Linked DNA regions of Homo sapiens. The protein of the gene in region 7 purifies or fractionates together with the protein of the main gene of each other region. This does not show direct contact. Each region holds a gene or a part of one and is shown on either strand. Other genes may lie near its edges. The genes, in order: PPP1R12C, RAI14, GSK3B, YLPM1, PPP1R2, CCDC85C and PPP1CB.

Region 1 (3,500 bases), on a different chromosome or scaffold from region 7:
ACCCCAGCCCCTCCTCCCTCAGACCCAGGAGCCCAGGCCCCAGCCCCTCCTCCCTCAGACCCAGGAGCCCAGACCCCAGCCCCTCCTCCCTCAGACCCAGGAGCCCAGGCCCCAGCCCCTCCTCCCTCAGACCCAGGAGCCCAGACCCCAGCCCCTCCTCCCTCAGACCCAGGAGTCCAGGCCCCAGCCCCTCCTCCCTCAGACCCAGGAGTCCAGACCTCCAGCCCCTCCTCCCTCAGACCCAGGAGCCCAGACCCCAGCCCCTCCTCCCTCAGACCCAGGAGTCCAGGCCCCAGCCCCTCCTCCCTCAGACCCAGGAGCCCAGGCCCCAGCCCCTCCTCCCTCAGACCCAGGAGTCCAGGCCCCAGCCCCTCCTCCCTCAGACCCAGGAGTCCAGACCTCCAGCCCCTCCTCCCTCAGACCCAGGAGTCCAGGCCCCAGCCCCTCCTCCCTCAGACCCAGGAGCCCAGGCCCCAGCCCCTCCTCCCTCAGACCCAGGAGTCCAGGCCCCAGCCCCTCCTCCCTCAGACCCAGGAGTCCAGACCTCCAGCCCCTCCTCCCTCAGACCCAGGAGTCCAGGCCCCAGCCCCTCCTCCCTCAGACCCAGGAATCCAGGCCCCCAGCCCCTCCTCCCTCAGACCCAGGAGTCCAGGCCCCAGCCCCTCCTCCCTCAGACCCAGGAGTCCAGACCCCAGCCCACCCCACACCTGTGTGGACCTCCGAGACTGGCGCATGAGACGGGAGCGAGCTTTTCTCTGGGATTCCGACTCCTCATCCCGCACAGGCATCTGGTAGGACCTGAGGGAAGGGTCCCAACCTCAGACAGGGAACCTGGGGACCCTGTCCCATTCCGTGGCTGACACCCTCCGCGGGAAGCAAGTTCTGTGGGAGGGGACTCCAACTCCCAGCAGACCTGAGGCCAGCTCTCCCTCAGGAGCCCACCCAAAGCCCCGGGACTCCTGCTTCACATCGTCTCTCCCTGCTGGGGGCGGGGGCGGCAGCTTCCTGCCCTGGCCTCTTCACCTCCGTCGGTCCCGGGAGTCCGCTGGGGGCGCCGTGGAGGCTGTGGGGACGTTTGGCTTCGCTGGGGATTCAGGCTCCGGAATCCTGGAGGGAGGCGAGGAGTTCTCCAAGCAAGGAGGAGGCTTGGTGACCTCAGACCTGCATCAATTCATTCATTCCACAAACATTACCCAGGTGCATTGTGTGCCGGCACTGGAGATGCAGCCGTGAGTGAAAGAAACAAATTATCTGGGCCACAACAGAGTCAGAGCTGAGCAGAAATACACAAAACCCACAAAAGCCATGAAAAGACCAGCACACTACGCAACCGGTCAGAAGGATAAAGGACTCTGGACAGAAGCAGCAGTGCGAGAACTGAGAGCGGGAGGGTGTGCGTGTGCGGACGGCGCCGTGGTGGCAGCAGGGTGGTCAGTGTGCACCTCGGGGTGGGGGGAAGATAGGGGAGAAGGTGACGTTTCAACACAGACCTGAGGGAGGGAGAGAGCCCCCAAGAGGAACACAGCACAGGCTCTGGAGTGGCGGCAGGAACCAGACCCCAGGGGGTACATGGTCTCACTCAGGATCACACGGACAGGCTTGGAACCCACATCTGCCACCCACCCCTGAGGGGCCCAGGCCCTGGGGACTCACAGGACAGAGGGCTCCGGCAGCTTCGGGGAGGGGGTCGGGGTAATTCTGGCAAGACGGAGCTCCTTGGCCTGTGTGGAGAGGAGAAGGGGAGGAAGGGGCAGTTCCCTCGACTGGGCAGGGGCCTGGGCCTGGACCCGGCCCAACCCTCACTCACCTGAGTGGAGGTCCCTTCCAGCCAGGAGGAGGAAGCCGAGCGCTGCAGCCCAGCCCCAGGGGCTCCCTCCGCTGTCCGCCTTTCAGGGGGACCCAGGGCACCAGAACTCCCTGTCTTCAGGAGGCCAAAGCGCCTGGAGAAGGGGGCCTCTTCAAGCTGCTGGGAGAAGGAGGAGGTCTCAGTTAGAGAGAAAGGATCCCTCTTCTCAGACCTCAAGGGTTAGCCCCCAAAGGACTGCAACAAACTACAATTCCCATCAGCCCCCGGGGCAGGCACAGCCTAAAAAGGAAGCCGGTTGTCCAGGACGACTCTGGGAACTATAGTCTTCCCCCTATCTGCCCCTGCCAGAGGTTCACAGGCTGTATGGAATCCCACCTCCGGGCCCTCCCAGCCTCACAGGACCTCTCAGGGCATCCACTCACCACGGGACTCTTAGGGCTGGGGTGCGGCGGGGAGGAGACGCCATTGAGGGTTCTGGGTTCTGCAGGGGGTGGTTCTGTGATGTGGGAACACCGGGCAGGTCACAGAAGATGCCAGTTGCCTCTAGATTCAGAGAACCCGACCCCTCCTCCCTCGGACCCAGGAGTCCAGATTCAGGCCCCTCACCGGTGGGACCTTCTTCCCCCTCATCCTCGTCCTGGATGGGGGGCCCCCCAGCCCCACCAGGCCGGCGCTCCTTGGACAAGTCCTGGAGGGAAATCTTCTCGCGACTGCTCAGACGACACACAGAGCTCCTGTTGGGGAAGGAGAGGGTGCTGGGGTACAAGCCCGGGGCCTCCAGCCACCCCGCCAGCCCTGGACTCCTCCCTCCCTATACCTTCTGTGTTTGCTGCTAGAGGGCGCTTGGGGCTCCTGGCCCCGGCTCTGGGAAGCTTCTTTTTGGTTCCGAAGCTGCAAGGAGGGAAGGGGGCTGCAGGGGAGGGGTGGAGCACACGTGCCCCACAGCAACACCACCACAAACAGCTGTGCAGGAGCTCACTGCCCAGGCGGGCACCGAGGGCTCGTGGGCTTACTGGTTTTCCTACAGATGGCCACACACCTCAGGGGCAGGAGGTGCCCTGCGTCCAGCAGGCGCCCGCAGCTGCCACGTGCAGGCACTGCCGTCTTGTCCTCACGGCCCCCACCCATGAGAAGCCTCCAGTCTCATCCCCAGAGGGGTCCTTCTAGCTCCCAGGGGAGACCTGCTTAGACCTCACCCCGACCCCTCAGCATACCCAGGGCACTGGTGGGCCCTCAGCTGCCCCGGCTCCTGCAGCCGGCACTCGCCTCCTCCTTCCCCGCGCAGTTCACCACCGTCTTCACACCTTCCCCGCAGTTCACCACCGTCTTCGCCCCTTCCCCGCGCAGTTCACCACCGTCTTCACCCCTTCCCCGCGCAGTTCACCACCGTCTTCGCCCCTTCCCCGCGCAGTTCACCACCGTCTTCGCCCCTTCCCCGCAGTTCACCACCGTCTTCGCCCCTTCCCCGCAGTTCACCACCGTCTTCGCCCCTTCCCTGCAGTTCACCACTGTCTTCGCCCCTTCCCCGCGCAGTTCACCACCGTCTTCGCCCCTTCCCCGCGCAGTTCACCACCGTCTTCGCCCCTTCTCCGCGCAGTTCACCACCGTCTTCACCCCTTCCCCGCAGTTCACCACCGTCTTCACCCCTACCCCGCGCAGTTCGCAGTTCACCACCGTCTTCACCCCTTCCCCA
Region 2 (3,500 bases), on a different chromosome or scaffold from region 7:
AGAAGTTATCCAAGTGCAGAAAGAAAGTAGTAAAATTTCTATTTAGACTTATTTTTAAAAATCAAGAAATTAAGCTTTATTTGTAATTACATTGATGGTAGAAAACATGTATAGCCGTAGAAATAAATATACCTATATAGGAAATATATGCTGCAAAATGTTTTACTAATGTTTTAGAAGCTAATTAACCTTCTTCCCAGTTTAGAAAAAAAAAAAAAAGTGCAGCTCTCTGCCAGAGCTCATTTAATTTTATATAAACACACTCTTTGAGGCTGAAGAAAATCTGACTGATTTTCAATGTGAAAATAAAATATAAAAACTGTTCTTGGAGTTATTTCTAAACAGAACTAACACCAGAATCATCTGTCTCAGAAAAATCGGATTCATCAAATGAATCTTCAGCCAAGATCTCTTTGAGAACGATATTAACATCACACATAGGAATGCTACGTTTTCTAGGATTTGACATTTTCAGTGGTCGAGAATTACTACATTTTGTAAATGGAAATACCACTACTAAAAACAGAATGCTATAAACAGAATGATGTCTTTTGTTTCCAAAGTCAATACACTAGAGTGATGGGAAAATAATAATAATAAAAATGAGATATTTCGTGGCAAAGTTATCTTGAGGTAAATGCTGTATCCCCAAACGCCACTGGTGAGTATTCTTGGAGCAAATGGGAAAAGGGTTAAGAGTAATACATAAATCCATTTTGCAGAAGAGAATCTAGGTTGAAAAGCAATAGAATTTGCCCAATACTTAGTTGTCTAAAACAGGAGTACCCAACCCAGGGGCTGCAGATCAGTACCAGTCTGTGGCCTGTTAGGATCTGGCTGCACAGCGGGGAGTAAGTGGCAGGCGAGTGAGCAGTACTGCCTATAAGATCAGCAGCAGTACTGGATTCTCATAGGAGCACAAACCCTATTGTGAACTGAGCACGTGAGGGATCTAGGTTGTGCACTCCAATGCCTGATGACCTGAGCTGCAGTAGTTTCATCCTGAAACCATCCCCACCCCCATCCATGGAAAAATTATCTTCCTCAAAATCAGCCCCTGATGCCAAAAAGGTTGGAGACTGCTAGTCTAAAGTCTCAGTGACTCTAGAGGTATCCCATTGAGCTCTAGAAACCAATGTCTACCTCTGCCTCTAGTGACCACCTGGTACTTACCAAATCTTTGAGGTTTATGGGGCTCTTGTGTTCGCAGAGAATCTGCACAGCTTGAAGGCAGCCCTGAGCCGCTGGGGGAAGGAAAATATAAATACCACAGCCAATCACACAGTTATTCACAACCAGGGGTATCAGATACTTCAGGAAGGAAATGTTCATGTTCTACCCACTCTACATATATTCACTCTAGTTGCATTGAAGAGAAATGGTATTAGGAAGGTTAGGAGTGAGGTGTTTAAAATTACTGCTTAATTTCAGAGTTATGCAGGCCTAAAGCCAATGACTGCCAGTTGCCTTTAGGCAAATATTTGGCTCAGGTTTTCACAGGACTTAGCTTTTCCACAACTAGCAATAAAACACATGTGTAAATCTAATCACTCATAGTTCAGTGTCAACGTTTGTCACTTCAAGTTGTGTAATCATACTAAACAAAATATTAGTAAATAAAATTGACTGATGTTCATAATAATCCTCAAATCAAAAAGTCTGTATCACACATTACCTGAAATCTACAAATGCTTAGAATATCTCTTAGTTTAAAAAGAAACCTTAAATTAGTTAAAATATATTAATCGTGATAATTTTCAGTGGTTAGGTGGCAAAGGAATTGATGAATTCTAGGCATATGCCTCGGTAAAACTGTGTATGTTTTACAAACAGAGTAAAATGGGAATGTTTAGAAATGATGACAGAAAAGAGCACCAGGAATAGTATGGAAGGTTAATGGCCTGAATAAGGAAAAAGAAAAGTTGGTGTTTCTAATGGCAGAAGAAGACAAATAGGAGAATGAAAGTTACCTGCATAATGTAAAGCTGTTTTCCCAGAGCTGTCGACACTTTCGGCTGGGCATTTAGACTATAAGACAAAAATAAATACATCCATATAATAAAATACCCTGCCCCAATTCTATTCAGTTCAGACTTTTCCTGCAAGGTATGATGTGACTTATTAGGAAGACTATTAACATAAATAAGCCCCAGCTGCTGTGTTCCAGGGGCCTACAGTCTCCTATGGGGAAGGAGACTCATGTCTTTGGGATGGGCAAACTCTCCCCTCTTTGCTGCTTCACCTATCTGTTCCTCTCCTTCCCTCATCACTCCAGCACCCCACCAGCTAATAGACATACTCTAGGCTCTCTCATCTTAATCCTTTCTTTTCCCCCATCTCCTGCCCTTTCTGTCCCCCTTCACGAAACCAGCTTTCTCTTAAGGATTACCCACATGCAGTCCACGCACCCTCACCTCCATTCACTCCCAAAACCACTGCAGTTGGGTGTCCCCTCTCGAGTCCAAGGAGATGGCCTTGGTCAAGGTCACCAAAAACCTTCATGTTTCCAATGACGATAAACATTTCTGTCCTCCTCTCTCCAACCTCTCAGCTCCTAGAGCCCTGCTTGGCTCATCTTATTCTGCTTTTCCTCTTGCGGCTCCTCCTCTAGCCAAACAGAAAACCTCAGGGCTCCTCAGTGTTCTTCCTCTAAGCTCTTTTCCCTGGTAAGCTCCTCCACACCCACAACCTGAAATATCATCTAGAAGAATGAACGCTAGTGACTCCCAAATGCGGAGGTCCTAACAGTGACAACAATAAGTGCTATGTAAGTATTAGCTCTCACGTGCCAGGCACTGTTCAAAGAACTGCTTTATGTCCCCTAACAACACGAGGTGGATACTATCATTACTTCCACTTTCAGATGAAGAAACGGAGGCACAAAAAAGTTGATAATTTGCTCAAGTCGCAGTAAATGGCAGAGCCAAGATTCAAACTCAGACAGGCTGGGCTAGGGCCTGTATTCTTACTCATACACAAAAGTTGTCATCTTCAAGCGCTAGGCTTGATAACCCACTGCCTACTTCACATCTCTGCTCTGATGTCTTATTAGCATCTCAAAGGCCCAGCCAAAATCTCTGGCTTCCCCTCCCCCGTGCCCCACCTGCTCCTCCCTGACTGCCTTCTCCATCAACAGCATCATCATCAGTCTAGACATTGAGCCAGAAACCAGCGATTCAGCTTTGATTCCTCCTCATCCTCCACCCCCTTCCCCGACCCCTCTTCCTCACCCCACATGTAGTGGACCACCATGCCCTGTCAACTTTTTTCTCCAAAACTCGCCTCCACTCTACCCTCTTCCCTTTCTTGTTCCCGACACCCTTTTCTAGGACAGCGTCTTCTCACCTGAACAGCTAAGGTAGCCTCCTGGCACGTCTCCCCAGTTCTGCATTTTTCCCCTTTTTATCAATTCTCTAAAGAAACAGAATTCTCTTTTAAAACTGTGACTCTCACTGTCTACTTAAAAGCCCCTCACACTTCCATGCTGTACTTAGGATGAA
Region 3 (2,313 bases), on a different chromosome or scaffold from region 7:
GCATGAGAAGAATGTTTCCCCCACACCCAGTTAAGAGTTTTTGTGTCTGTTTTCTTTGTGTATCAGTGAACGATGTTAAGAATCAGTCTCTCTTTTTGAAGAAAAAGCAATATTCCTTGGAAAGCAAGGAGAATTGAAGGACTATGTTTGCCGTGAGGAAATAGATTTTCATGACTAGTTTGTTTTATACTTTTAAGGTTGGCATCTATGTGGGCCTTATATACTCTAAAATGAACTTTAGTCACCTTGGTGCTTATGGGCCATTACTTGACCTATGAATCTTTAAGGCACAATCAGTTGTACTTTACATTTAAAGATCACTTGAGTGATGGCCGCCTTTCCCTCCTACCCGCTCCTTCCCCACATGCCTTCCAAGGTTAGCTGGTAACTGTAGGGCTGCAGAGCTGAGCCCATGGTTGTGTGTAACTTGCCCTCACCCTCCTCATTGCCACCTTAGGTCACTTTATGGGTCTCGTCCTCCAGAGGGTTCGGAAGTGGAGTCTGTTGGCAGCCCTCCTGCAGGCCCTAGCACCCTGTCCTGCTCCTTAACTGTGTGTGTGACTCTCCAAGAGAGTTGTCCTGCCTGCTGAAGTGAACCAGTACCCAGAAAGACAACTGTGAGCCATCTTGGTTTTCACTCGCTGTTTAGCTGAGGTCTTGGGCCACAAAAGGGGTTTCACAAACCTCTGGATATATCAGAGTTTATGAGAAAGGAAACATGCTCAGTCAAACCAAATCAAACAAATTGAATTTTATGTTTTATAAAGTGCTTCTGAAAGCTAAGATTTGAAAGAAGTCTGAAATCAAAGTATTTGGCAGCATAACTCCTTAAAGGTAGTGGCGTTGATAGACCATTTTCAGACAGAATTTATAAAGAATCTGAAAAGGCAGGTCTGTGATAGAGAAATGGACCTGCATTCAGATCCAACTGCCCAGCAAGCGTTTGGATGCAGACACTGCTCTGGACGTGGTATACTCCCCAGAGTCCATAAAAATCAGTGCTTATTTTAGGAAACAGGTTGCCCCCCACAACTGGGGTAAAAGAAGAGAGAAAAGTCACGCTTTTCTCTCATTTCATTGTGTGTGCATGTGTGCGTGTGTGTGTGTGTGTGTGTGTGCTGAGATGTGTGATTTTTCTTTCTCAAGGATCATGGTGGGATCACAGAACTCTTTTATACAAGTGAGATCCAGGTCTCTGAATATCTTTTTGTATATAATAATAATAAAAAGCTCCTCACCAAATTCAAGCTTGTACATTATATTTTCTTTCTGTGTTTTTAAATTTAAGTTTTATTGTTTTGTATGTAAATATGTGGACCCAGGAACTGTTATTAATGAGCAAAAAGTTACTGTTCAGGGCAGTGATTCTGTTTAATAATCAGACAAAATGTAGACGAGCTTTTTAAAGCCATATAGTTTTAACTCTGTACAGTAGGTACCGGCCTGTATTATTGTAACAATAACTCTAGCAATGTATAGTGTATCTATATAGTTTGGAGTGCCTTCGCTTCCATGTGTTTTTTTTTTTAATTTGTTCTTTTTTAAATTTTAATTGGTTTCCTTTATCCATGTCTCCCTGTCCACCCCCTTTCCCTTTGAAATAATAACTCACTCATAACAGTATCTTTGCCCCTTCCACAGTTAAGTTTCAGTGATACCATACTCAGGAGTGGGAAGAGGAAATCATATTCGTAATTTCATTTCGTTGAAGCCCTGCCTTTGTTTTGGTTCTGAATGTCTTTCCTCCTCGGTAGCAGTGAGACCGGTTTCATTTCATACTTAGTCCATTCAGGGACTTAGTGTAGCACCAGGGAGCCCTAGAGCTGGAGGATATCGAATAGATTAAATTTTGCTCGTCTCTTCCACAAGCCCTAACCATGGGTCTTAAAAACAGCAGATTCTGGGAGCCTTCCATGCTCTCTCTCTCTCCTCTTTTATCTACTTCCCTCCCAAATGAGAGAGTGACAGAGAATTGTTTTTTTATAAATCGAAGTTTCTTAATAGTATCAGGTTTTGATACGTCAGTGGTCTAAAATGCTATAGTGCAATTACTAGCAGTTACTGCACGGAGTGCCACCGTGCCAATAGAGGACTGTTGTTTTAACAAGGGAACTCTTAGCCCATTTCCTCCCTCCCGCCATCTCTACCCTTGCTCAATGAAATATCATTTTAATTTCTTTTAAAAAAAATCAGTTTAATTCTTACTGTGTGCCCAACACGAAGGCCTTTTTTGAAAGAAAAATAGAATGTTTTGCCTCAAAGTAGTCCATATAAAATGTCTTGAATAGAAGAAAAAACTACCAAACCAAAGGT
Region 4 (3,500 bases), on a different chromosome or scaffold from region 7:
CGGCCTCTAATGAGCCCAAAGAACTGGGATTACAGGTGTGAGCACCCAGTCCTCCTACTTATTCTTTAGAGTTCATTTAAATATCACTTTACAGGCCCGGCGTGGCAGCTTACGCCTGTAATCCCAGCACTTTGGGAGGCCGTAGCAGGTGGATCACGAGGTCAGGAGTTCAAGACCAGCCTGGCCAAGATGGTGAAACCTCTTCTGTACTAAAAATACAAAAAAAAATGGCCGGGCACTCTGACTCACACCTGTAACCCCAGCACTTTGGGAGGCTGAGACAGGCAGATCACCTGGGGTCAGGAGTTCGAGACCAGCCTAGCCAACATGGTGAAACCTCGTCTCTACTAAAAATACAAAAATTAGCCAAGCGTGGTGGCAGGCGCCTGTAATCCCAGCTACTCCTGGGAGTAGCTGAGGCAGGCTGAGGCAGGAGAATTGTTTGAACCCGGGAGGCAGAGGTTGCAGTGAGCCGAGATCGTGCCATTGCACCCCAGCCTGGGCAACAAGAGTGAGACTTCGTCTCCAAAAAAAAAAAAAAAAAAAAAAAAAAAAAGATAAAAATACAAAAAAATTAGCCGGGCGTGGTGGCAGGCACCTGTAATCCCAGTTACTAGGGAGGCTGAGGCAGAAAATTGCTTAAACCCGGAAGGCGGAGGTTGCAGTGAGCCGAGATCGCGCCACTGCACTCCAGCCTGGGCAACAGAGCGAGACTCCATCTCAAAAAAATAAAAATAAATAAAATAAAATAAAAACAAATAAAAAATAAAAAATATCACTTTACAAAGGGAATCCTCTTTAATTAGGTTAGCGCTCCCAGCTATATTCAATTATTTAAAATATATTTGTTCTCCACCTCCTATGCGCTAGATCCTATGCAAGGTACTGTGAATACAGTGGTAACTTAAAAAAAAAACAAAAAACAAAAAACTTGCCTTTGCCAGTTCCTTGGGGAATAATCTAGTGATATTTTATAATCCCATAGCACTCTGTACGTCTCCTCTTAATTACTTACTAAATGTCTTCTCCCTTCCCCCACAACTGAAACAAGAAGTCAATGAGGGCAGGTCCCATGTCTATCTTGTTAACCATTTCATCTCCAGTATTAAGCACAGTACTCATAGTACCTGGCACATAGTTGCTAGTCCGTAAGTATTTAAACATTAAATAAATGATACCTCTAAAAACTAATCAAAGCCAACAGCTTTAACTAAATAAATCAGTCCTTTAAACACATAGAAAAATTAATTATTCAAAAAGACACATTCCGACCGGGCGCAGTGGCTCACGTCTATAATCCCAGCACTTTGGGAGGCCGAAGCAGGTGGATCACTTGAGGTCAGGAGTTCGAGACCAGCCTGACCAACATGGTGAAACCCCATCTCTATTAAAAATACAAAAACTAGCCAGGCATGGTAGCATGCACCTGTAATCCCATATACTTGGGAGGCTAGGGCAGAATTGTTTGAACCCAGGAAGTGGAAGTTGCAGTGAGCCGAGATTTCACCACTGCACTCCAGCCTGAGCGACAGAGTGAGACTCTCTCTCAGAAACAAACAAACAAAAAAACACATTCCATTAAATCATCAACACTTTACCCGAAAAACTAGAAAACACCTGGAAAAATATCAAGTATTTATCTTGTCCTTCCTATACCAACTGTATTTCCAATCAAATATCTGTGGCAAAAGTTTTTCTTTACATAACTCCATATAGTAACTGTGGAAGAAATGGCAGAAAAAAAAAATCACCAGGTTGCAACCTCTGTCTAATGAAATAATTTACTTAGGCAAGGTCTTTCTTCAATTGATGAACCAGTAGACTGAAACATTAGATGCAAGATTGATAGAAAGCTTTACAGTAGAGGGACCAATGGCATTACTAACAGTGGGACAACCAGGCATCGGGTGTCCCATGAGGAATGCAACACTTGCCAAAAGAAAGCTGAACTTAAATGAAGGTTCCAGAGTTAACTTCTAATTCAAAAAAAAAAAAAATGTGGAAGACATAGGAACAAGTCAAATGTGACACCATGAAAAAGCAGACAATGCAGAATGTCAGACATTCTACAGGAAAACTGACAACAGATTTTTCATCAAGTTCAAAGACATGAGGTAGAAAAAGAAAATAGGAGGGACTGACCTAGGTCAAGGGTTCTCAACAGAGGGTAATTTTGTCTCCAGGGGATACTTGGCAATGTGTGGAAACATTTTTGGTTGTCGGACTGGGGGCTGCCACTGGCATCTAATGGGTAGAGGTCAGGGACGCTGTTAAACATCCTACAATGCATAGGACAAGCCCCTCCACAACAAAGAATCATCCTGCCCAAAATGTCCATAGTGCCGAAGCTGAGAAACCCTGATCTATACTAAGAATCTTTTCAGTATTCTGTTTGGACTCTGACTTGAACACACCAAAAAAACATTGTTTGGGAACAGACTGTGAGGACAGAAAACAACAACACTGTTGAGTCAATTTGGGGTATTTTAACATGGATGGTATCAAAGAATTATTTTTAGTTCATTAGTATGATGAAACAATAAAGGAAATCTGAACGGATCAGGTATTAGATGATACCAAGAAACTGTTAACTTTGTTAGGTGTTAACAATGTGTTTATCTAAGAAAGGGTCTTGGCCGGGCACGGTGGCTCACGCCTGTAATCCCAGCACTTTGGGAGGCCAAGGCAGCTGGATCATGAGGTCAGGAGTTCAAGACCAGCCTGACCAACATGGTGAAACCCCGTCTCTACTAAAAATACAAAAATTAGCCAGGCGTGGTGGCATGCACTTGTAATCCCAGCTACTCAGGAGGCTGAGGCAGGAGAATCGCTTGAACCCGGGAGGCAGAGGTTGCAATGAGCCAAGATCGCGCCACTGCACTCCAGCCTGGGCAACAGTGTGAGACTCCATCTCAAAAAAAAAAAAAAAAAAGAAAAGGTCTTGGTTTTGTTTTGTTTTGTTTTATAGAGGTACTTGACTAAGAATGTAGGGATGAAATGACATAAGATCTAAGATTTGCTTTAAAATATTTCAGCAGAGGCCAGGTGTGGTGGTTCATGCCCATAATCCCAGCACTTTGAGAGGTCAAGGCAGTGTACTGTTTGAGCTCAGGAGTTCAAGACCAGCCTGGGCAACATAGCAAAACCCCGTCTCTACCAAAAAAAAAAAAAAAAAAAAATAGCCAGGCATGGTGGCATGCACCTGTAGTCCCAGCTACTTGGGATGGCTTGAGCCTGGGAGGCAGAGGTTGCAGTGAACTGAGACTATGCCACTACACTCCACCCTGGGTGACTGACAGAGCAAGACCCTGTCTCAATATATATATATGCAACAATAATAAAAAAGGCCTAGGTGAAGTAAACATGGCAAAATCTTGATAGCTGTTGAATCTCAATGATGGGTATGTATGGGGAATCATACTTTTTTCTCTATTTTGTGTATTTTAAAAATATTTCACGATAAGAAATTTTGAATGACACATTCCAAAAACAAAATATGA
Region 5 (3,500 bases), on a different chromosome or scaffold from region 7:
TCACGGTACAGGAGGTAGTCCCTACGCCACAACACTTCAAGTAGGTTTCTACCATATTTTCCTTCTTCCTCTTTTTTGTGAGTATGTGCTTTTCTTATATCTTTCCCCTCTACCCACAAGCTTGGATTTTCCTTTAAAAATAGTTGCAAATAAACTATACACAATTTTTTAACTCCTGAGAAGATTATATATTCACATGAATCAAAAAGTATAAAATGCAACAAGATAAGACATACTCCTTTTCTCCCAGCCTCCACGGGTAACCACTTTTACTTGTGGAAACAGAAAGCACGAGCAGGCAGCAATGCCTTAAATGTGTATGTGCTGAATGGCCTACGAGACCCTCTTCCATCCCTGTGAAGGGGAGGGCTGTCTCCATCTCCCTTCCTGTGACACTACTGCTCCTTTTGATTGATGGGACCTAATAAAGACCTTCACTCTGCATCTGATCATCTTGGTTCATTTGTTAAGTTGCATCACTGTCCAACAACACAAAAAGCATAAGCAACTGGGAAATTAGCTCTTTCAGCTACCCACTTTAAGACCGTCCAAACGCTCAATGACTTGAAATGCATTAATTTAAAAAGTATTTACTGAGTATCTACTCTGCACTAAAAAGTACAAAGAAAATAATACTTATAATTACTTTAAAGATGGTAATACTTCCCCATATTCTTGAAATCAGGGGTAAAAAACTATTACACAACAAAACACACAAGTAGTATCTGAATTATAAAGATGTTGCTTTCATTCTCCTCCCCTGTGTGTCCCCAAAATGAAAACCATTTGCTCATCTTCCAAATAATGGATTTATCTTAGCAAAAATTACTAGCACCATGATGAAAGCAGTAAAGGAAATAAACTACCTCGTTCTTCAGGTGAGAGGTCACTATCCTCCTCTCCACTGCTTTCTTGTTCCTGAATCCGATACTTTGGCTCCAAGCCTTCAGCTGCAGCTAATCTATGCAACAATCATGTACAAAGAAATTAACAGTGATGTTTTGATATTATTTAAGCGCCTTATTCAACTGTTGATTCTTACAAAAACATCTGAAGATCATTAATGTGCTAGCTATAACCTGATGAGGAAAATAAAAGGCAAGAGAGCAGAAACGTGCCGGGCATGGTGGTACACGCCTGTGGTCCTAGCTATTTGGAAGGCCGAGGTGGGAGCACTAGTTAAACCCAGGAGTTTGAGGTTGCAATGAGCTTTGATTGCGCCTCTGCACTCCAGCCTGAGTGATAGAACAAGGCCCTGTCTCAAAAAAAAAAAAAGAATAAAAAGAGTAGAAATGGGCATAGACAAGAACAGTGGAATGGGTGCTAGAAATCAGTAAGTAGCAAAGGAAGAGTGCTTTTATGAATTAACTTATTTTTGCCTTTCTCACTGCTACCTTTAAAAACAGGAAGCAGGGGCCAGGCGCGGTGGTTCACCCCTGTAATCCCAGAACTTTAGGAGGCTGAAACCAGCGGATCTCTTGAGGTCAAGAGTTCGAGACCAGCCTGGCCAATATGGCAAAACACTGTCTCTACTAAAAATACAAAAATTAGCCAGGCTTGGTGGCATGGGCCTGTAATCCCAGCTACTACTGGGGAGGCTGAGGCACGAGAATTGCTTGAACTTGGGAGGTGGAGGTTGCAGTGAGTTGAGATCACACCACTGCACTCCACCCTGAATGACAGAGCGAGACTCTGTCTCAGAAAACAAATAAAACCCCCCACAGGGAAGTGACACATTTCAGTATCCCAAGTGCAGGTACGCTGGTCTTCCTGCCACCTACATACCTTGATTTTAATCAAGAGACAAGACTATAAAAGTTGGTGACTCAGAAGGTGAAAAAAGGGGGAAAAAAGGAAAAAAAAGTCGGCATAAAACATGTTGATCAACAGCCTTTTCTTCCCGCTCATACAGGGACAGCCACGCAGGCTGCTTTCAACTCTGCACGATTATAAACAGCCTAAGTGAAAATGTGCTCCGGTCATTAGTACTTACTTCCTGGCTAAGATGTCTGGCGCCATGGCTTCAGTGGCCTCGGTGTCACTACAGGCATCTTCATCATCCCCCATCATACTAGTATGACAAGCACATTGTAATTAATACCTGAAACATACATTTTCAGCCACAAAAACAAGGGAGAAAAACAATTCCATCAACCTACTTAACATATCAATATATTTATAGCTCTGTTGATATCTTTGAGGTTTAACTTTATATAGTTCCTATTCAATACAAATACTTAAAAGTACAGCACCCAATCAAGAAAAGACTCCAAATGATTAAAAAAAACACATAAATACAGTCTGCCTGCCATATCCACAGGATCCACATCCATGAATTCAACCGTGGATTGAAAATAGCCAGAGAAAAGTAAAATTTCCTCTGTACTAAACATGTAGACTTTTTTCTTATCATTATTCCCTAAATGATACAGTGTGTAACAACTATTTGCACAGTATTTACATTTTATTAGGTAATATAACTAACACAGAGATGATTTAACACATACAGGAGGATGTGCATAATTATATACATCTACAATGCCATTTTATATCAGAGACTTGAGTGTCTGAGGATTTCGGTATCTGAGGGAGGTCCTGAAACCTCCATGGATAATGAGGAATAACTGTACTGAAAACGTAAATGATCTGGAAAAAAAAATACTACAAAGTTCCAATTATTCCATCCAGTGGGAAGGAACAAGTAATGCAAAGTAAATCACTGTCTGGTTTTAGAACATGTATTTCTACATCAATCTTAAGATAGAGACAAAAGATCTACGCAGACACAAGACTGAGTAAAGTAACAAAATTCGATCCCAAAGATCTAATTTCGGAAGTTTACAAGTGATTTAGCTTTCTCACTCTACCCTCTAATGAAAAATTTGCTCCCCACTTCAATGCAAAAATGGGCAACCTTAATTCTTAAGCCACTGCAAAGTATATAAAGCAGAACTCAGCTATTTATAAAATACTGCCAGTTTATACATTTCCTGGTTAATTAAGGTGACAAGTAAGTCTATAGTTTAGATGACGTTCTTTTTTCTAAGGGAAGTTGAAATTGATCTATGTTATTGAGTTTAATCAAGCAAAGTAAGGTAAAATAAACATTTTGTTAATTTATAGAATCGTTCTATAGAAAATTCTAGTTGTAAAATTTACTGAATTATGTTTATATATGTACATGTATACAGAAGCAATAACTTCTTGTATACTAACTGTGAGATTCTTAGATAATAAGACATGATGTTTCTATAAAAAGCATCTTCACTTAAATAAAATTTTTTTTTTTTTTGAGACAGGGTCTCATTCTGTCACCCAGGAGTACAGTGGCACCATCACGGCTCACTACAGCCTCAATTTCCCGGGCTCAAGTGATACTCCCACCTAAGCCTCTTGTGTAGCTGGGACTACAGGCATGTGCTACCATTCCTGGCTTAATTCTTTTTATTTTTTGTAGAGACGGGGTCTCTCTATGTTGCCCAGGCTCATCTCCAATTCCT
Region 6 (3,500 bases), on a different chromosome or scaffold from region 7:
CAGGACAGCAAGCAGAGGAACCTCGAGTCCAGGAACATGCAGCCTTGTCCCCAGCAAACCTGCACCAGGAATTGAAGCTCAGTGTTCTCCTCTTGCACTAAACCCCTTACTGAGTCCTTTAAGCAGAGGCAATCAGATAGGGGAGGCAGGTACTTCCACTGGGGCCCTGCAGGAGGGGAGGCTGGTCTGGGCCAGGGTCTCAGCCTCAAACAGCGTTTAGACAGGTCACCATCTCTAGGCCCCACAGTGGGACCCATGTGGTCACAGGTAGCCTCACCATCCCCACACCTGCCCCAAGGCAAGGACCAACCACGAGGCAGGTGATAAAACCCAGGCTGTAGGGCATAGGAAGAGAATTCCCAGGAATATAAAAGAGCTGGCTCATAGGACCACTGAGTGACCGATAGGAGGCAGGATGGGCAGGGGAGGCCACCCCTTCCTTGTGGCTCTGAGTCAAAGGGCCAGAAGAGATGAGGGTCCCTGGGACTCTCAGCTCAGCCCATCCAAGCTTCCTATTTTACAGATGGGAAAATGAGGGCCCAGGGAGAGGCACAGACTTACACATGGTTGGGTCTCAAGTGGGCTGAAGCCACTGGTTCTGTCTGGATCGTCCAATCCACAGAACACTAGTAATCTTCCAAGACCCCCAGGCAGGGAGCATGTCAGCTGACAAGGCCACTCAGGCCCAGCAGGTGATGTGTCTGCATATTTATCAGGTGGGGAGCAGGGGAAAGATGGGGATAAGCTGTAAAAAGTTTCCAGTTTCTAATAGGACTTCTAACAGGTAACTCTGGGTCCTCTTGGAAAGTCCATCAGAAAAGGTTAGAGCTAGAACTGCCCACACCCCGAAGGAAAGCCCAACCTAGGGACTTCAGGGACAGTAGAAGAGGCTTCAAAGACCCCACCGGCCCTGGCCTTGCTCACTGCCCCAGTGCTTGTCCTGGGTCCCCACTCATCCATCACCCCAGCTGAACCCAAGGTGCAGGCAAATGCCCACCGCATGACTTTGCTCGGCTCTTCTTTTTGTTTTGGTTTCGTTTGGTTTTGGTTTTGGTTTGTTTTGTTTTGAGATGAGTCTTGCTCTGTGGCCCAGGCTGGAGTGCAGTGGCGCGATGGCTCACTGCAACCTCTGCCTCCTGGGTTCAAGAGATTCTCCTGCCTACCAAATAGCTGGCATTACAGGCGCGTGCCACCACACCTGGTTAATTTTTGTATTTTTAGTAGAGATGGGGTTTCACTATGTTGGCTAGGCTGGTCTTGAACTCCTGACCTCAGGTGATCCGCCCAGCTCAGCTGTTCTTTCTGCGAAGCCTGGTCTCTCTTCTTACCTGCTCTCTTCTGCTTTTACTAACTCCATCTTCAAGGCCCATCTCAGTTCCCAATTCGGCCACCCCTCCTCTGAGCTCCCAGCACACCTGAAGAGGTTAAGAGCCCAACCTGGGCATTTCCTTGAGGGAAAGGGGCATGATGAATAATCACACCCACAGGGCAAGGGAACCGGGACATACCGGCTGGCACAGGCTCCGGGTTCAACTGGACGGGAGTCCCTGACCTGGCCCAGCCCCACCCTGCCCCTGCTGTAACTTGCCTCACCATCCTGGGCCTGTTCCTTAGATGAAACAGGGACCCCAATGGGGACCAGCAACTGTTGTGGGAGGCGAGTGAGAGAAAACCCAGTTGCTGTCAGCACAGTGCCAGGCACACGTTTGTTCCATCCAAAAGACTTTCAGAACCTGCCACTCTGTGCCAAGGCTGGGAGTCAAGAGGACCAGAGTCCCAGGCTCATAAACTCCCAGATGAAGAGACAGTAATGACAGAGGGCCCCAGGTGGGCAGGGAGGGCTCCAGCACCCATGTGGCTGGCCCTGGGGTGGGCCCCTGTCTTTCTCAAGTCTCTTAGTGCCTTAGGACTCTGTGAAGTTTGCTCAGGGGTTTCCGGCTCTCCCGGGCCTGGCATTTGTTCCACTCTCAGATACCATCAGCCGCAGACACAGTCTACTCAAGGGCTTTTCCAGGGGCAGAGAGGGGAAGACCTGCCAGCAAATGTCCACATGGGTTCTAAGACACGCCCCATATTACAACTGGGAAGGGAAAATGCCCAGCTTTGAACTGAGGAAATGGCAGAATGTCTCTGCCGTTGAGGAATCAGGAAGAAGGAAAGGGAATCAGACCCTCGCTTCCTCCCCAGGGCCATCTACTGTAGTTAAACATGCTCCACGCCTCTGTTTGAACAGTACACATAAGGCAAACCCAAGAACACTTACAGGCAGTCAATACAATCCTGATCTTTCTGCTCTGCTCCCCTCAAGAGCTGGAGGTCAGCGGTGACCTGCTGAAGAACAGGCACCCATCCCCGGCTGACCCGGCTCCAGGCCTGCCCAGAACCCTCTGCCTGTGAGGACAGGGGATGTATGAGTGTCCAATCCTGGGTGCTTGCCTAGGGGAGGGGGACCATTTCTGACATGTTATGATCAAAGAAGCATCAAGTCCCTTTAGCAGACAAGTTTGTTCCTCTATCCCCAAGCCTTTGGGGATGCCAATAGAGTCTCTTGTTGTTATGTAGCAGGGAGATGAGAATTCTGAACCCCAGAGTGGTCCCTGCCTAGATCCCAGACGCTGATCCCAACCACCCTAGATGTAGGGATGGGAGTAGCGGGGAGCAGCATCAGCGCTGGGGATGGAGGGCACAGCAGCCACCTGGGAGCGGCAGCATCTCCCACAGGCGCTGTCCTGCCTGAGCCCCACCCAAGAGCTCAGGACGCCTGCCCTAGAGGACAGAGGTCATGAGAAGGCAGATAGCAGCTGAGAGCAGGACTTTGGAGCAGACTCACCAGGTCTGGAACCTACAGAAGGCTCTCTCCTGTGGCCACTCTCCTGGCCAGAACCTCCTCCCGATGGAAGCCCTCAGCTTCCACCCACTGCTCCCCCAGCCCAGCCCACACCACAGTGGTCACCAGAGTGATGCTCCAGAACCACCACCCCCCAAGCCAGACTCCAAGAATCACTGCTCAGGAGGCACTCAGACCTCAGAGGCAGTAAATGCTCAGTGAAGTCCGCAGACGCTTCCCTTCCTCCTGAAGAGCAAATTACCACCTGTGAGGTCAAGTCCCGCTTCCCACCTGGCTCTGGGTTCAACCAGATTGGATTGAACACACACATTCAAAGCTGGGCATTTTCCCTTCCCAGTTGTAATGTGGGGCGTGTCTTAGAACCCACATCTCAACCAGATTCCCAGAGCTGTCTGGGGTGTCCACAAGCCCCATCCTCAGTGGATTCAGGAATGCCCCTTCTCAGTGTCCACGCAACCTCCCCTGACACAGCGCTCCCCAGCCCTGGAGGCAACACAGGCCACCTGGGCCACTCTTGCTTGTGGGCACTGAAGTCTGAAAAGCTGGGACTTTGGGGTCTGCCCTGTGGGGCTGCCCACAGCACTAACCCCCCTAAGAGTTATCTCCCCACACACATCCTGGGTCCACCTTGCAGGCCCCGGATTCTCAATGC
Region 7 (3,500 bases):
GCCACTGCCTACAGTGACTTCTGTTTCACCTGGATAGTTTACTAGATAAACTAATTTTAAAAGAGCCTCTTCAGCCAAGTAAGCTGCAGTCAATCTGAAATATGACCAAGGAGATCTCAAGGAACCAATTTAATTAGTAACATGTTTCCCAGTTTCAGGTTCCTCTTCCTGGCCTATGCCTGACAGATCTTATTTTGAAAAAACTCTGAATCAAAGCAACTCTTCTGAACCAGAAAATTATTAGGCAATGTTTCCATGAATTACTTTTCTAAGTCTTTATTTTCACTTACATTCATCATAGAATCCATAAATGCGATTGATGCTAGCACACTCATGGTTTCCTCTTAAGAGAAAGAAGTTCTCTGGATATTTGATTTTATAAGCCAATAGCAAACAAATGGTTTCCAAAGACTGCTTTCCTCTGTCCACATAATCTCCTAAGAAAAGATAGTTGGCTTCTGGTGGGAAACCTCCATATTCAAATAATCTCAGTAAATCTGTATATTGTCCATGAATATCTCCTAAAAAGAGAAAGAGTCAGTTTTAGAAAAATTGGTTACTGTTATAAGCAGCTTCTATGAAATGATTCCCAATGTTCACATCCTGTGTAATCCTCCCCTACCCTTGAGTATGGGCTATATTTGGTGACTTACTTCTAATAAGCGAAAGTGAGATGGGCTGTCACTTCCAAGATTAAGTTACAAAAGACTGTGACTTTCATCTTGCTTGCACTCTCTCACCTTCTTCCATGCTCGCTGATGAAACCAGCTGTCTAATGAAGCATCCCACGTAGCAAAGAACTGAGGGAGGCCTCTGACCAACAGCTCATTTGGAACTGAGGCTCTTAGTCCATCAGTCTATAAGGAACTGAATCCTTTCACAGTTCAACCTTCAGATGACTGCAGCCCGAGATCACGCCTTAATTGGAGCCTTGTGAGAGACCCAGAGCCAGAGGACCCACTAAGCTGTTCCTGAATTCCTGACCCACAGAAATTGTGAGATGGTAAATTAATGTTGCTGTAAGCCACAAAGTTTTGGAATGATTTATTATACAACAATAGGTAACTAAAACAATTTTATTATCTGGTAGTTTAACTTACGTCACTTTTTAACACCAAATATGGAGACAAATAGTAAACCTTTAGAAATATGTAGTACAAATAACTTCCATTACCTTCAAGTTATTTCTATATTACATTTTAAAGAACACCTTCAAAGAATACTTTAATTCTAATAATTTTAAGATCACCTCTAAGTAACTACATTTGCTTAAGTTTATACAGGGGATTGATTAGTTCCCCCAAATTCTGAACTACTACCTCTTACTTGAAGGTGTGATATTCTAAGTTAACTGATCCATTCAACAAACATTTATTGGCCAGCTGCGGTGGCTCATGCCTATAATCCCAGCATTTTGGGAGGCCAAGACAGGTGGATCACCTGAGGTCAGGAATTCAGAACCAGCCTGGCCAACATGGAGAAACCCTGTCTCTACTAAAAATACAAAAAGTCAGCTAGACGTGGTGGCTCACACCTGTAATCCCAGCTACTCAGGAGTCTGAGGCAGGAGAACCACTTGAGCCCGGGAGGTGGAGGTTGCAGTGAGCCAAGATTGTGCCATTGTACTCCAGCCTGGGCAACAAGAGTGAAACTCTGTCTCAAAGAAAAACCAACCAAACAAACAAAAAACAAACATTTACTTAGCGAGTATCTCTTATTTGCTGGGCACTGTACAAAGGACTGTAAAAAAGTCACTGTAAAACTTAAAAGAATACAAGGTATAAAGTAGTATAATCTTCAAAACAAATTTAAATAACATCAAAGTTAGAAGACCACAGATATCGCCATATTGACCCTCTAAATTATACACCTATTTTTTTCTAACCAGTGTACTATGATGCCCTTTTCGTGACATCCTTGACAACACTAAACATCAATCTTTGGTATTTTTTTATAATCTGACTAGAGTTGGAGACTTGCTTTAAATTGCACATCACTGATTACTAAAAAAAGAAGCTGACGTCCTTATGTTTACTGGCCATTTGAATTTCTTCTAAGACCTTCCTCTTCCTATGTTATTTTTATACTGTATCGCCTTTCTCTTATTTATAAGAACTCTTTATATATTATAAATAGAACTCCTTTTATCTGTTGATATATAGCAAGTATTTTCATCTTGTCTGTAACTTGTCATTTTTATAAGTTTCAATTTTTATACACTTTTATTTAGTAAAGCCTACTGATCTGTTTTATACAAAAATTTCAAAAAATGTTTTCTCTAGATCTTAAACATGGGAGGAAAAACATGATTCAAAAGAGTTGTTTCCAACTTTACCCATTTACATACCACAAATTTTCAGCGGTGCTTCCAATTCCAAAAGAATAGGCTGGCTGAGAAAGATCTCCCGAGACTTGATACATAAGCCTCGAACTTCTGCTTCAGTCATCTGCACAATCTTTCCTGGACGACATCCTCGTACTGACAAACGATAAATAAAACAGTCAGTTTTCTAAAATTTACTCATAATAATCTTTCAAAAAGAGTCATGCCCATACTTTAAAAATCAGAAAAGTCACACAGGCAGCAAATTACCCTATTTGGTCCCATGGTTTAAAATAATGTTATTCTATGATCTCTGACTTCTATTTTCATTGTTACTGGTTCCTGATGATGCTCCTCAAGTCTGCTGTTGATGAAATGCAGTCCTGTTTTTTGCTGTCCTGTGACCAACCTGGGGCCTAGTAGCCAAAGAGACTTAAAAGATTTCAGGGCCGGGCACGGTGGCTCATGCCTGTAATCCCAGCACCTTGGGAGGTTGAGGTGGGTGGATCACCTGAGGTCGGGAGTTCAAAACCAGCTTGATCAACATGGAGAAACCCCATCTCTCCAAAAATACAAAATTAGCCAGGTGTGGTGGCGCATGCCTGTAATCCCAGCTAATTGGGAGGCTGAGTTAGGAGAATCGCTTGAACCCGGGGGCAGAGGTTGCAGTGAGCTGAGATCGCCCCATTGCACTCCAGCCTGGGCAACAAGAGCGAGACTCCGTCTCAAATAAAAAAAAAACAAACAAACAGAAAAAAAACAACAACAAAAAAAACACACACAAAAAAACATTTCAGAGCCCGCACCCTTTAAGGTCTGGCCTGCTTATCTCGCATCTAGTAGGATGTCAAAACAGCCTCATTAAGAACAATGTGCTATGAAGAAAGGGAGATTAAATAGTAATTGTCAGTAGGTGATTTAGCTTCACACACTTTCTTGGAATGTTACCAGCAGTCCCCAAAATTTTAGCAACTCCTATCTCTACTTTCTGATCAAAAGAAATACAAAAAAGATATCAGCTATGTATTAAAAATTAACTTATCGTTACATTCCCAATAGATCATTATATTAAAACCTCTAAAGGCTATTTAGATGGAGTGAGGCATCTTTGCATTACTGAGCCATAAGATAATATGGTTTCCAGTAACTTGTGGGATGAAGGGGAACAGAATGTTGC

Evidence for each region.
Region 1: the proteins of PPP1CB (region 7) and PPP1R12C purify together in Homo sapiens (affinity purification with mass spectrometry; 3 studies listed by BioGRID and IntAct, with this or other methods). This does not show direct contact.
Region 2: the proteins of PPP1CB (region 7) and RAI14 purify together in Homo sapiens (affinity purification with mass spectrometry; 3 studies listed by BioGRID and IntAct, with this or other methods). This does not show direct contact.
Region 3: the proteins of PPP1CB (region 7) and GSK3B purify together in Homo sapiens (affinity purification with mass spectrometry; 3 studies listed by BioGRID and IntAct, with this or other methods). This does not show direct contact.
Region 4: the proteins of PPP1CB (region 7) and YLPM1 purify together in Homo sapiens (affinity purification with mass spectrometry; 3 studies listed by BioGRID and IntAct, with this or other methods). This does not show direct contact.
Region 5: the proteins of PPP1CB (region 7) and PPP1R2 purify together in Homo sapiens (affinity purification with mass spectrometry; 4 studies listed by BioGRID and IntAct, with this or other methods). This does not show direct contact.
Region 6: the proteins of PPP1CB (region 7) and CCDC85C purify together in Homo sapiens (affinity purification with mass spectrometry; 3 studies listed by BioGRID and IntAct, with this or other methods). This does not show direct contact.

The regions. Positions count from the first base shown.
Region 1 is NC_000019.10:55,093,638-55,097,137, forward strand, and holds part of PPP1R12C (protein phosphatase 1 regulatory subunit 12C), read right to left. Parts: intron 2,699-3,500; coding exon 2,625-2,698; intron 2,542-2,624; coding exon 2,414-2,541; intron 2,304-2,413; coding exon 2,230-2,303; intron 1,967-2,229; coding exon 1,808-1,966; intron 1,722-1,807; coding exon 1,654-1,721; intron 1,162-1,653; coding exon 1,024-1,161; intron 799-1,023; coding exon 708-798; intron 1-707. UniProt on the Homo sapiens protein: Regulates myosin phosphatase activity.
Region 2 is NC_000005.10:34,806,328-34,809,827, reverse strand, and holds part of RAI14 (ankycorbin), read right to left. Parts: intron 3,365-3,500; exon of another isoform or gene 3,346-3,364; intron 2,029-3,345; coding exon 1,971-2,028; intron 1,245-1,970; coding exon 1,174-1,244; intron 1-1,173. UniProt on the Homo sapiens protein: Plays a role in actin regulation at the ectoplasmic specialization, a type of cell junction specific to testis. Important for establishment of sperm polarity and normal spermatid adhesion.
Region 3 is NC_000003.12:119,823,135-119,825,447, reverse strand, and holds part of GSK3B (glycogen synthase kinase-3 beta), read left to right. Parts: 3' UTR 1-2,313. UniProt on the Homo sapiens protein: Constitutively active protein kinase that acts as a negative regulator in the hormonal control of glucose homeostasis, Wnt signaling and regulation of transcription factors and microtubules, by phosphorylating and inactivating glycogen synthase (GYS1 or GYS2), EIF2B, CTNNB1/beta-catenin, APC, AXIN1, DPYSL2/CRMP2, JUN, NFATC1/NFATC, MAPT/TAU and MACF1.
Region 4 is NC_000014.9:74,766,316-74,769,815, reverse strand, and holds part of YLPM1 (YLP motif-containing protein 1), read right to left. Parts: intron 1-3,500. UniProt on the Homo sapiens protein: Plays a role in the reduction of telomerase activity during differentiation of embryonic stem cells by binding to the core promoter of TERT and controlling its down-regulation.
Region 5 is NC_000003.12:195,522,826-195,526,325, forward strand, and holds part of PPP1R2 (protein phosphatase inhibitor 2), read right to left. Parts: intron 2,072-3,500; coding exon 1,994-2,071; intron 962-1,993; coding exon 867-961; coding exon of another isoform or gene 864-866; intron 1-863. UniProt on the Homo sapiens protein: Inhibitor of protein-phosphatase 1.
Region 6 is NC_000014.9:99,594,208-99,597,707, forward strand, and holds part of CCDC85C (coiled-coil domain-containing protein 85C), read right to left. Parts: intron 1-3,500. UniProt on the Homo sapiens protein: May play a role in cell-cell adhesion and epithelium development through its interaction with proteins of the beta-catenin family. May play an important role in cortical development, especially in the maintenance of radial glia.
Region 7 is NC_000002.12:28,775,830-28,779,329, reverse strand, and holds part of PPP1CB (serine/threonine-protein phosphatase PP1-beta catalytic subunit), read right to left. Parts: intron 2,480-3,500; coding exon 2,348-2,479; intron 522-2,347; coding exon 291-521; intron 1-290. UniProt on the Homo sapiens protein: Protein phosphatase that associates with over 200 regulatory proteins to form highly specific holoenzymes which dephosphorylate hundreds of biological targets.